Homo sapiens: one gene and its partners. The protein of the gene in region 3 purifies or fractionates together with the protein of the main gene of each other region. This does not show direct contact. Each region holds a gene or a part of one and is shown on either strand. Other genes may lie near its edges. The genes, in order: NFS1, PLXNA1 and CLEC4M.

The links.
Region 1: the proteins of CLEC4M (region 3) and NFS1 purify together in Homo sapiens (affinity purification with mass spectrometry; one large-scale study listed by BioGRID and IntAct). This does not show direct contact.
Region 2: the proteins of CLEC4M (region 3) and PLXNA1 purify together in Homo sapiens (affinity purification with mass spectrometry; one large-scale study listed by BioGRID and IntAct). This does not show direct contact.

What each region holds. Positions count from the first base shown.
Region 1 is NC_000020.11:35,689,214-35,692,857, forward strand, and holds part of NFS1 (cysteine desulfurase isoform a precursor), read right to left. Parts: intron 3,158-3,644; exon of another isoform or gene 3,036-3,157; intron 1,353-3,035; coding exon 1,200-1,352; intron 1-1,199.
Region 2 is NC_000003.12:127,013,971-127,017,614, reverse strand, and holds part of PLXNA1 (plexin-A1 precursor), read right to left. Parts: intron 3,596-3,644; coding exon 3,499-3,595; intron 3,434-3,498; coding exon 3,240-3,433; intron 3,138-3,239; coding exon 2,986-3,137; intron 2,905-2,985; coding exon 2,784-2,904; intron 2,432-2,783; coding exon 2,295-2,431; intron 1,099-2,294; coding exon 931-1,098; intron 672-930; coding exon 578-671; intron 191-577; coding exon 1-190. UniProt on the Homo sapiens protein: Coreceptor for SEMA3A, SEMA3C, SEMA3F and SEMA6D. Necessary for signaling by class 3 semaphorins and subsequent remodeling of the cytoskeleton. Plays a role in axon guidance, invasive growth and cell migration.
Region 3 is NC_000019.10:7,761,829-7,766,098, reverse strand, and holds the start of CLEC4M (C-type lectin domain family 4 member M), read right to left. Parts: upstream 2,857-4,270; 5' UTR 2,833-2,856; coding exon 2,787-2,832; intron 2,707-2,786; coding exon 2,623-2,706; intron 915-2,622; coding exon 831-914; intron 462-830; coding exon 1-461.

The DNA of each region.
Region 1 (3,644 bases), on a different chromosome or scaffold from region 3:
ACAGTGGCTCATGCCTGTAATCCCAGCACTCTGGGAGTCCGAGATGGGTGGATCACCTGAGGTCAAAAGGTCAAGACCAGCCTGACCAACATGGTGAAACTCTGTCTCTACTAAAAATACAAAAATTAGAGCCAGGCATGGCGGCTCATGCCTGTAATCCCAGCACTTTGGGAGGCCGAGGCAGGTGGATCACGAGGTCAGGAGTTCGAGACCAGCCTGGCCAATATGGTGAAACCCCATCTCTACTAAAAATATAAAAAATTAGCCAAGTGTGGCCGGGCACGGTGGCTCACGCCTGTAATCCCAGCACTTTGGGAGGCCGAAGTGGGTGGATCACGAGGTCAGGAGATAGAGACCATCCTGGCTAACATGGTGAAACCCCGTCTCTACTAAAATACAAAAAAACACTAGCAAGGCGTGGTGGTGCATGCCTGTAATCCCAGCTACTTGGGAGGCCGAGGCAGGGGAGTCGCTTGAACCCGGGAGGCAGAGGTTGCAGTGAGCCAAGATCGCGCCACTGCACTCCAGCCTGGCAATACAGCGAGACTCTGTTTTAAAAAAAAAAAAAAAAAAAATTAGCCAGGTGTGGTGGCACGTGCCTGTAGTCCCAGCTACTCAGGAGGCTGAGGCAGGAGAATCACTTGAACCCGGGAGGTGGAGGTTGCAGTGGAGTGCCACTGCACTCCTGCCTAGGTGACAGAATGAGACTCTGCCTCAAAAAAAAAAAAAAAAAAAATTAACTGGGCCTGGTGGCATGCGTCTGTAATCCCAGCTACTCGGGAGGGTGAGGCAGGAGAATCATTAGAACCCAGGAGGCGGAGGTTGCAGTGAGCCGAGATCGCGCCACTGCATTCCAGCCTGAGTTATAAGAGCCAAACTCTGTCTCAAAATAAAAAAAAGAAGTAACAAGTCCTCCAGAGGTTGCAGAGAGCTGAGATCAAGCCACTGCACTCTAGCCTGGGCAAAAGAGTGAGACTCCATCTCAAAAAAAAGAAAAAGAAACAAGTCCTCCAGAGAAAAGGAGGACAGTACACACTCAAGGGGAACATGATCTCGTTCTCTGCCAGGCTTATTTCTCTAAACTTCATCCTAACTGTTAGATCTATTCCTTCAAGCTCCAGCTAGGGCCCAAGAGAGAAATTTACAAGCTGAAGCCAGGCTCCTCCATTTTTGCTCCTCCTGCCAATAGCCACTCCTACCTTTAGGTCAATGATCCCACTCTTCTGCACTGGGAGGTAGGTGACCTGAAAGCCCTCAGCTTCCAGTGAACGGCAGGAGTCCAAGACACATTTGTGTTCTGTCTGGGTGGTGATCAAGTGCTTTTTCCGTGACCTGTAGAATCGGGCCACCCCCTAGAAATTGGTGGTGACAGATGGAAGGAGAACATACTCAGAGAGACAGCAATGACTTCAATCTCATTTGTAAAGGAAAAGTGGGCAAGAACAGTATGCTCCAACACCAGTTCTCTCATACCAACTGAGTATCCTATAATTCAATTCTGAGGCTAACTCTCCAGACTTAGTGAAAACCCCATGGGTTAAGGGCTCAATCGTACAAGACTGCCCCTAGTTCAGATACCAGACATAAGTCCCAGGGGTCTCAAGCTACCCATACTTCTGCCCAGTCAAATACAAATTCAGGGCTTCCCGAAGCCCGGTCAAGTTCAATAATTCACTAGAATAAATCACATTTGTCCAAACCCATAGAATGTACAACACCAGTGAATCCTAATATAAGCTATGGACTTTGGGTGATAATGATGTATCAATATCAGGTCATCAATTGCAACAAATGTACCACTTGATGGAGGATGCTAATAATGGCAGAAGGCTGTGCATACCTGGGGGCAGGGCATATATAGGAAATTTCTATACCTTCCTTTCAATTTTGCTGTGAACCTAAAACTGCTATAAAAAATAAAATCTATTAAAATAATAATAGTATACAGATTAATGTAGGTATTTAAAAATCTGGAGAAATATACAGCAAATTAGCAGTGAAAATGTGTTTAGAGTTCTACTCTATATTATTGGAATTTATGATTCATTCATTTAACCAATATTTAGCACCTCCAGTATCCCAAGTAATTTTCTAGGTGCCAGTGATATAACAGTAAACAAGTCATGAGTAGGTATTACTGTTAATATCACAAGAAACAATAAAGGTACATTTAAAAATTCCTGGAATTTCAACTATTACAAGAAACTAAAAAAAACATTTATCTCATTGAAGAAAAAAAAAAAGCGGCCAGGTGCAGTGCCTCACGACTGTAATCCGAGCACTTTGGGAGGCCGAGGCAGGTGGATCATCTAAGGTCAGGAGTTTGAGACCAGCCTGGCCAACATGGGGAAACCCCATCTCTACTAAAAATTAAAAAATAAGCCAGGCCCGGTGGCACGCACCTGTAATCCCAACTACTCAGGAGGCTGAGGGAGGGGAATCACTTGAAATCAGGAGGCAGAGGTTGCAGTGAGCCAAGAGTGCTATTGCACTCCAGCCTGGGCAACAGAGCGAGACTGCATCTCAAAAAAAAAAAAAAAAAAAAAAAAAAAGAACGCCAGGTGCAGTGGCTCATGCCTGTAATCCCTCCACTTTGGGAGGCTCAGGCAGGTGGATCACGAGGTCAGGAGTTTGAGACCAGCCTGACGAACATGGTGGAACCCCATCTCTACTAAAAATACAAAAATGGCCAGGCGCGGTGGCTCACACCTGTAATTCCAACACTTTGGGAGGCCGAGAAGGGAGGGTCACCTAAGGTCGGGAGTTCAAGACCAGCCTGACCAACATGGAAAAACTCCGTCTCTACTAAAAAAAATACAAAAATTAGCCAGGCGTGGTAGTACATGCCTGTAATCCCAGATACTCTGGAGGCTGAGGCAGGAGAATCGCTTGAACCCAGGAGTTGGAGGCTGCAGTGAGCCGAGGTCACGCCATTGCACTTCAGCCTGGGCAACAAGAGCAAAACTCTGTCTCAAAAAATAAATAAATAAATAAAAATAAAAATACAAAAATTAGCGAGGTGTGGTGGCACGCACCTGTAATCCCGGCTACTCAGGAGGATGAGGCAGGAGAATCGCTTGAACCTGGGAGGCAGAGGTTGCAGTGAGCCGAGATCATGCCCCTACACTCTAGCCTGGGCGACAGGGTGAGACTCCATCTCAAAATAAATAAATAAATTAATTAATTAAAAAAAAAAAAGGGGGCTGGATGTGGTGGTGGCTAATGCCTATAATCCCACCACTTTGGGAGACTAAGGCAGGAGGATCGCTTGAGCTCAGGAGTTCAAGACCAGCCTGAGCAACATCATCTATACTAAAAAAAAAAAAAAAAAAAAAAAAAAAAAAATTAGCCTGGCGTGGTGGTACACATCTGTAGTCCCAGCTACTCAGGAGGATCACCTGAGCCAAGGAGGTCAAGGCTGCAGTGAGCTGAGATCTGGCTACTGCACTCCAGCCTAGGTGAGATCAAGACTCTGTCTCAAAAAACAGAAAAAAGAAAAAAAAATGGGCCAGGAGCAGTGGTTCACACCTGTAATCCCAGCACTTTGGGAGACTGAGGCAGGTGGATCACCTGAGGTCAGAAGTTTGAGACCAGCCTAGTCAACATGGCGAAACCCCGTCTCTACTAAAAATACAAAAATTAGC
Region 2 (3,644 bases), on a different chromosome or scaffold from region 3:
TGAGTGGCTCCAGTACGGGGTCAGGGTAGTAGAGGAAGGAGGTGGAGTTGAGCACAAGCAGGGAGCGCACGTTGTCCATGACGAAGCCCAGCTCATCCGGCCGCTCCCCCAGCTCTGGTGGGCTGCGCACAGGGTTGGCCACAGACGGGGCGCGGCATACCATGGTGGTGTCATTGTACACCAGGCAGCCCTGGAGACACAGGGTGGGGATGCTGGGCGGGACCTCCGCGAGTGGCCCGGCAGCTCCCAGTGACAGAGCCCCTGGCCTGGGGGCTGCCTGCTCCCTGCACAGATGATGCCAGGCACTAGCAGGGCTGGTCCTGGGCCACCCACCCGACGTGGACCAGGGACATGTGGCCTGAAGGAGAGGTGTGTGCAGCCAGCAACCCAGAGCCAGACCTTCTACCCGCCAGGCAGGACAGGTGCCTCCCCAGGGGTCTCCAGGCACAGCCAAGGTTGGCATAAGCTGGGAAGGGGCAGGGGTAGGGGCAGGGGCAGGGACACGGGTATTCCTAGCAGGAGCCCCATCCCAGGTGAAGGCCTGGACCGAGGTGGGCAGCTGAGGGCAGGGACTCACGTTCTCCCTCTCAATGCCTCCATACTTGGCCCGGATTCGGGGTTCACGGACAGTGGCCAGGTTGGTGCCTGTGACCGTCAGGAGGGTCCCACCGCTGGAACAGGACAGGGGTGGGGGGGTCACCAAATGATGCTGGGGCCCAGTGAGCTGGAAACGTGGGCCACAGCTCAGCCAGGCAAAGCCTGCCTTCCCCAAAGACAGGAAACAGGTAAAAGCTCTTGGCAAGGGGTGCTTCCCGGCAGGATAGTACCCGGCATGCAGGAGGGCCACCGCCAAGTGCCCAGTGGAAGAGCTCCTGGCTCAGCGCTGCTCTCAATAGCTGGGGATAGGGAATGGGTGTTGCTGGGCCCCACCTGTTGATGCTCCACTCGGGGTCGATCCTCAGGATGGTGGGGTCCTCGGTGTAGTTGTACTTCACCTCAGGGTTGGTGAGCTGGGCGCGGTTGATGTTGATGATGATGGGAGCGCTGCCAGGGCTCTGCCCGGGGGGTGTCAGGCACCGGATCTCACGGGAGTTCCTCCTGGAGGTGCCCGAGTGGGACAGTGAGGAGCACACGGGTGGAACCCAGGCAGGTGGAATGCAGATGCATTGAGGGACGGTGGGAACAGCGCCATCTGTCACAGGTACTGCCTTGGGTGGCTGCATACTATCACCGCTACTTTCCCTCCCAGGGCTGTGCATGTCTGTCCTACCCTCGCCCTGGCTCCCAGCCCCTTCAGGCCCCCACTGTTGCCCAGCCTGGCATTTGGGACCCGGCCTGCCGCCTCTCCAGGTCTGCTTTCATCACAGCCTCCCTGTCGCCCACACCCACTCCTGGTGACCCTGGCCAGGGCTCCACACCCACCAGGCCTCTGCCTCCCCAGAGGCAGTAGGCAGCAGGCCCGTCCCACGCACGCCAGGCTGGGAGGTAGGCTCATGCTGCCCTCCCTCTGTCCCTGGGGAGGGCTGGCGAGACTAAGCCCTGGCGCGACCTTCCCTGCCTGTCTCAGGGCCAGCCTCACTCAGCCGGGGCTCCGAGTGCTGGGAGCCCAGCACCCACTCCTACTACCCTGGGCCAGGCAGACACCTTCCCTCTCGGCACCTGTCCCAGTGGGAATACCTCGCCCTATCCCCGCATCCCAGGGGGCTGTGAGGAGACTAGATGAGCTGGCCTGGGTGGGGGTCACGGGGACACCCCACTGGGCAGGCAGCCAGGCATAGCCCACACCTGGGTCCGGACCCTCAGTTCTTCCACCACTGCCAGGAGCCCCACAGCCACCAGGCCCCCTCAGCTGCAGACACCAATGATTAGTCTGATAACGGGTAATTACCATAGGAAAATATTTAAAGGGACATTCCATTATCATCCCTAATCTAAAATTATCCACTTCAAGCCTCAGGGCTTTTGTTAAGATTTCTGTTTTCTCTCTTAAAAATTTTTAAAAAATACTTCTTATTTTGTACCCAAGGGATTCCCCCCTTCCCCACAGGGAAGAACCAGGGCAGAGGCAGCCAAGTTGCCCCGCCCCACAAAGGCAGGCCCCACGCCCATCACCGCCCAGTCCTACCACTCTGGAGGTAGCCTGTTTCCATGGTAACCTCCGCCTCTGGGTTTCACAGTGATCACCCCAGCCAGGCTCTCCATAGCCCCGTTGCCCAGGCAACAAGAAGGGGCATGCAACCATCTGAAACAGGAGGAGGGGCAGCCAGGCCCCCACCCCCACCTGCACCCCGTACCAGGAGAAGGAGCAGGGCCGGCCACCGACCGACACAGCCACATCACTGCCTGCGTTCAGGTGGCTTCCCTCGATGCCAATCCAGGTGCCCCCTGACAGAGGCCCACGGGAGGGGCTCACACGGTAGAAGGTTGGTGTCTGCAGGAAGAGGGAACTTGCTGAAACTCTCAGGAAAGTCCCCCTCGGGCCACATGGGGACAGGCCCCACTTGGCCTGCTTACCCCCACAGACAGTTCCCCAGACTAGGAGCCCGCATGCCCGGGAGCTGCACTTCAGAGCCAGTACTTCCAGGTTTCTCAGGCACAGCCCAAGGTGAGCCAGGGAGCCCTGGAGCTGGCCTAGGCACAGGAGGGGAGGGGCAGCACCCAGGCCGTGGAAAAGCAGTGGCAGAGCATGGCCAGACAAGGGGCCCTGAAGAGGCACAGAAGCCCTGAGCGGCACCCTCTCAGAGCAGCAGAGAATAGGGAGAGAGGGAGGGCAGCAGACTCACCACGAAGGTGAAGCGCTTGGGTGACAGGGCGCGGTAGTGTGGTGAGCAGTCCCGCACACACACCTCCACCAGGGCGTCATGGGCACGCACGGAGCTGGCGTCCCCGATCTCACAGACGATCCTGTGGGCAGGCGGGCCTCAGGGGCTGCAGGAGCCCCGCCCCGTCCCGTCCCGCCCCGCACACACCCAGGGCTGCACTCACTGCTCCGCACTGATGTACTCGCTCTCCACAGGGCTGCACAGCACCTTGCCCACGCGCACGCCCAGACGCACGTCTTCGAATCGCAGGCCCAGGTTCTCGCCTGTGATAGTGAGCCGCGTGCCGCCCTGCCTCGGGCCCGTCTCGGGGGACAGCTGAGGGAGGCAGAGGCTGGGGTACAGGCATCCCACAGGGCGTAGGGTGTGCGGTGGTGCAGGGCGGGGCATGGGGTGTGGGGGCAGGGCTGGGGGCCCTACCTTGAGGATCTTGGGGTCGGTGCAGCGACTGCTGCCGTGACGCGCGTGCATCCACGATGCAGGTGTGTCGGCAGCGCAGTGGTGTCGCAGGGAGCAGCGGCGCTCGGCCACGCACCATCCGCACTCGAAGCGCGGGTCGGCCTTGAGGCAGAGGCCGCAGCTCTCGCGCAGGGCCGGGCACTTGTAGAGGTGCGCTGTGGGGAGGGGTGCGGTCAGCTCGGGCCCGCCCACTGCCCACCCCGCCGGGGCGCCCACTCACCCTGGATGTTCTGTGGGTTGTCAATGACAAAGTTGCCGTTCCACACGACTGACAGGTTCACTGGCAGGTCGCTGACATCGTTCCCCTCGTAGGAGTACTGTTAGGTGATGGCACCGTCAGGCTTCCCAGCTAAGCGGCCTCCAGGC
Region 3 (4,270 bases):
CTGCAGCTTGGATTTCTCTGGCAACTCACCCACTGCAGCCTTCAGCTCCGTCAGCTCCTGGTAGATCTCCTGCAGCTTGGATTTCTCTGGCAACTCACCCACTGCAGCCTTCAGCCGGGTCAGCTCCTGGTAGATCTCCTGCAGCTTGGATTTCTCTGGCAACTCACCCACTGCAGCCTTCAGCCGGGTCAGCTCCTGGTAGATCTCCTGCAGCTTGGATTTCTCTGGCAACTCACCCACTGCAGCCTTCAGCCGGGTCAGCTCCTGGTAGATCTCCTGCAGCTTGGATTTCTCTGGCAACTCACCCACTGCAGCCTTCAGCTGGGTCAGCTCCTGGTAGATCTCCTGCAGCTTGGATTTCTCTGAGAGCTCACCCACTGCAGCTTTAAGCTGGGTCAGGTTCTGGTAGATTGCGTCTTGCTCGGATTGTTCCTGACTTAGGGAGCTGGGGACCTTGGACACTGGGCCAAGAAGAAAAGGAACTGCAATTATTAAACACCTACTGTGTGCCAAGCCCTGAACTGAGCCCCATAGAGACATCATTTGTGAGAGCCAAGGTCTCAGTTAATCCCCTTTGAAGATGAGGAAAACTGACACCTGGAGAAGGCAGCACAGAAGGCCAAGGAGAGCCAGGTTCTTCCCCTCCTCCTCCTCCCTCTCCTGTCCTGCTCTAGAGTGGGGAGGGGCTGTGGGAGAGGCCCCTACAGACCCCCAGGGACAACATCTTGGCTCTCAGTCCCACCTCCCTCCCAGACCTGGCCACTCCAGGCTCTGTTCATAGCCAAAAGGCCAGGCCTGGGGACCCCAGACCCTCAGAACCTGCCCCTGACCTTGGACAAGGATGGCCACCAGGACCCCAGCCAAGAGCATGAAGGAGAGGAGTTGCAGCACCAGGGCGCCATGGCCAAGACACCCTGAGAGAGGATACATGCGTCAGCCTGCCAGTGTTCCCACCTGAGCCTGGCCCAGGGAGAGCCTGGCCTAATCCCTCAGCACCCCAGGACCCAGGAACCCCAGCCCCAGCCCCCTCCACTCCAACACCTGGGAATCCAGGCCCTAGCTCTAACCTCCCCAGGACCCAGGAACCCCATCCCCAGCCTCTCCCTCCCCAAGTCCCAGGAGTTTAGGTCCCAACCCCCACCTCCCCAGGTCCCAGGAACCCAGGTACCTGCGTCCACCTCCCCAGTGGAACAGGAATGAAAAGAAATTAAAGAATGTGTAAGCAAAAACTCAGTTGTATGTAAGAAAACCCAATTCCCCCTGAGGAAGAGAAAGAGGTGGAATCCTTTAAAAATTAACTGCCTTTTTGGCCAGGCATGGTGGCTCACACTTGTAATCCCAGCACTTTGGGAGGCTGAGGCAGGCAGATCACAAGGTCAGGAGATCAAGACCATCCTGGCTAACACAGTGAAACCCTATCTCTACTAAAAATACAAAAAATTAGCCGGGCGTGGTGGTGGTGGGCGCCTGTAGTCCCAGCTACTCGGGAGGGTGAGGCAAGAGAATGGCATGAACCTGGGAGGCAGATCTTGCAGTGAGCCGAGATGGCGCCACTGCATTCCAGCCTGGGTGACAGAGCAAGACTCTGTCTCAAAAAAAATAAATAAATAAATAAAAATAAAAACTAAATAAATAAAATAAAAAAGAATTAACTGCCTGTTTTTCTGTGTGTGGCTAGTGAGCCTTATCTCTCCCTTTCCCAGGCATTGTGAAGACCCTGTTTCTCTAGCTGTGCAGCTGCAAGGTCACTAGGCAGATAAACTCAAGTTGTAAAACATGTTTTTCCTTGAAAAATAAGAAATGACGTAATGCATGTCTCAATTGAATAACTATCTTTGTTTCTCGCTTCTGTAATATGCTTCCCCCTGCACAGATCTCCCCCTACCCCATGAAATGCTTAAAAGGTAACTTGACTCTTTGTTTGGGGCTCAGTCTTTTTGGATGTTAATCTGACTGGGCTGGTGCACCTAAATAATAATAATAATAATAAATCCTCCTCAACCCCTTGATCTCTGTGATTCCTAAATTATCCTGCAACACCAGGACTCAGGCATCCAGGTCCCAGCCTCCACATCTCCAGGTCCCAGGAGGAACCCAGGCCCAAGCTCCCACCTCCCCAGGTCCTAGGAACCCAGATACCTGCTTCTACCTCCCCAGGACCCACGAATTCAGGCCCCAGTTCTCACCTTCCCCAGGACCCAGTAATCTGGTCCCAGCTCCCACCTCCCCAGGACCCAGGATTCCAGTCCCCAGTTCTCACCTGCCCCAGGACCCAGGAATCCAGGCCCCTTCTCCCACCTCCTCTGGTTCCAGGAGTCCAGGCTCCAGTCCCTACCTCCCATGGACCCAGGTGTCCAGCTTCCAACCCCCACCTCTGTAGGTCCCAGGAGTCCAGAACCCCTCTCCCACCTCCCCAGGCCCCAGGAACCCAAGCCTCAACCCCCACCTCCCCAGGTGTGAGGAGTTCAGATCCCTACCCCGTCCTCTTCAGGACCCAGGAACCCAGGTCTCAGACCTTCCTTCCCCAGAACCCAGGATTCCAGACCCCAACACCTACCTCCCCAGGACCCAGGGGTCTGGGAGGCTCTGTCTTCCACTATCTGCTCCCTAACTCTTGCCTACCTGTAGAGCTCTTGTGGCCATGTATCTGCTGGAATTGAAAGTCTCTTGGAAAAAGTCTGATGCCACTGGTTGTTGGATCTTCTTCTGAATTGACAGACATCAGCTCAGAGCCTGGGCCATCCCTTCCCCTTACCCAGGATCCCAGAGTTCCAACCCAGCCTTACCCAGGAGGCCCAGCTGCTGCACCCTTGGTTCCTTGGAGTCACTCATGTTTTCCCGCTGTCCCCAGATGTTCAGGACTCCTGGGGACCACAGCTTTTATTTTCCACCCTCTGATCCTCACTTTCTAAATCTACTGTCTCTCAGGAAGACAAACAGGAAGCTGGGTAAGATCACATCACCAGAAAGGCTAGTGAAAGGAGTCAGAGCCTGAGATCGGCCTGACCTTGCAGGAATTTCAGGGAGGTGTTGGGGGATGGTCTGGGGTTGACAGGGAGAAGGACTCCTCCACTCATGACATGGTTGAGCGATGGGATGCTTTTAATAAAATTCAATTCATTCTAATGGAAAGCGACTTTGTTATGCCTCCCTACGTAGGGCAGGGGTGGGCAGGCAGTACCGCCTAGTTCCTGGAACCACCATGCCCTCTGACCTCCAGGATCTGCTCTTTTGGTCTGCGGATGCTCTCATTCATGGGAATTTCCTTTGTTTTTGGGAGTTGGAGATGAACGATAGTTGTTTATTTCATACCTATGATAGGCACATTTCCAACAGCTTTATAAAACTCCTTCATTTAACTTTCCTACCCTGCAGTAGATCATGTGACCTCCAGTTTACAGATAGGGGAAAATAGAGGCACTGCGAGATTAAGAAACTAGCCCAAGGTCACACAGCTGGTAAATGGTGGAGCTGAGATTCGAATCCAGGCAGTTTTCCTCCACACTCCACCCAGTTAACCAAAGAGGGTCTAATAACATCAAGGGCAAAATAGAAAGATTTATAGTAACTTTAGTTAGACTATCCCAACCCAAATTGGAACAACCCATGTGGCCACCAGCAGGTGAATGAAAACAAATATCATGGCATATTCAGAGGGTGGAATTCTATACAGTAATGAAAAAGCAAAGTACTGATACAAACAACAATTTGGATGAATCTCACAAGAGTTAAGAAACCCAAACAGAATGAATACATTCTGTAAGATTTTGAGTTTACATGAATTTCAAGAATAGGCAGAAGAACTAACCTTTGATGGGACTCAAATTGGGGGCTTTCTGGAAGGAGTGGGTGTAAACTGACCAGAATGGGGTAGAAGGAAATTTTCTGCTGACAATGTTCCATATTTTTTTCTGAGAAGTGGCTGCATGGATGAATTCATATGTCAAAATTTCTTCTCTTTCTTTCTTTCTTTCTTTTTTTTTTTTTTTTTTTGAGACAGAGTCTCGCTCTGTCACCCAGGCTGGAGTGCAGTGGCTGATCTGGGCTCCCTGCAACCTCCGCCTCCTGGGTTCAAGTGATTCTTCTGCCTCAACCTCCCGAGTAGCTGTGACTACAGGTGTGCGCCACCACATCTGGCTAATTTTTGTATTTTTATTTATTTATTGGAGACGGAGTCTCGCTGTGTTGCCCAGGCTGGAATGCAGTGGTGCAATCTTGGCTCACTGCGACCTCCACCTCCCAGGGTCAAGTGATTCTCCTGCCTCAGCCT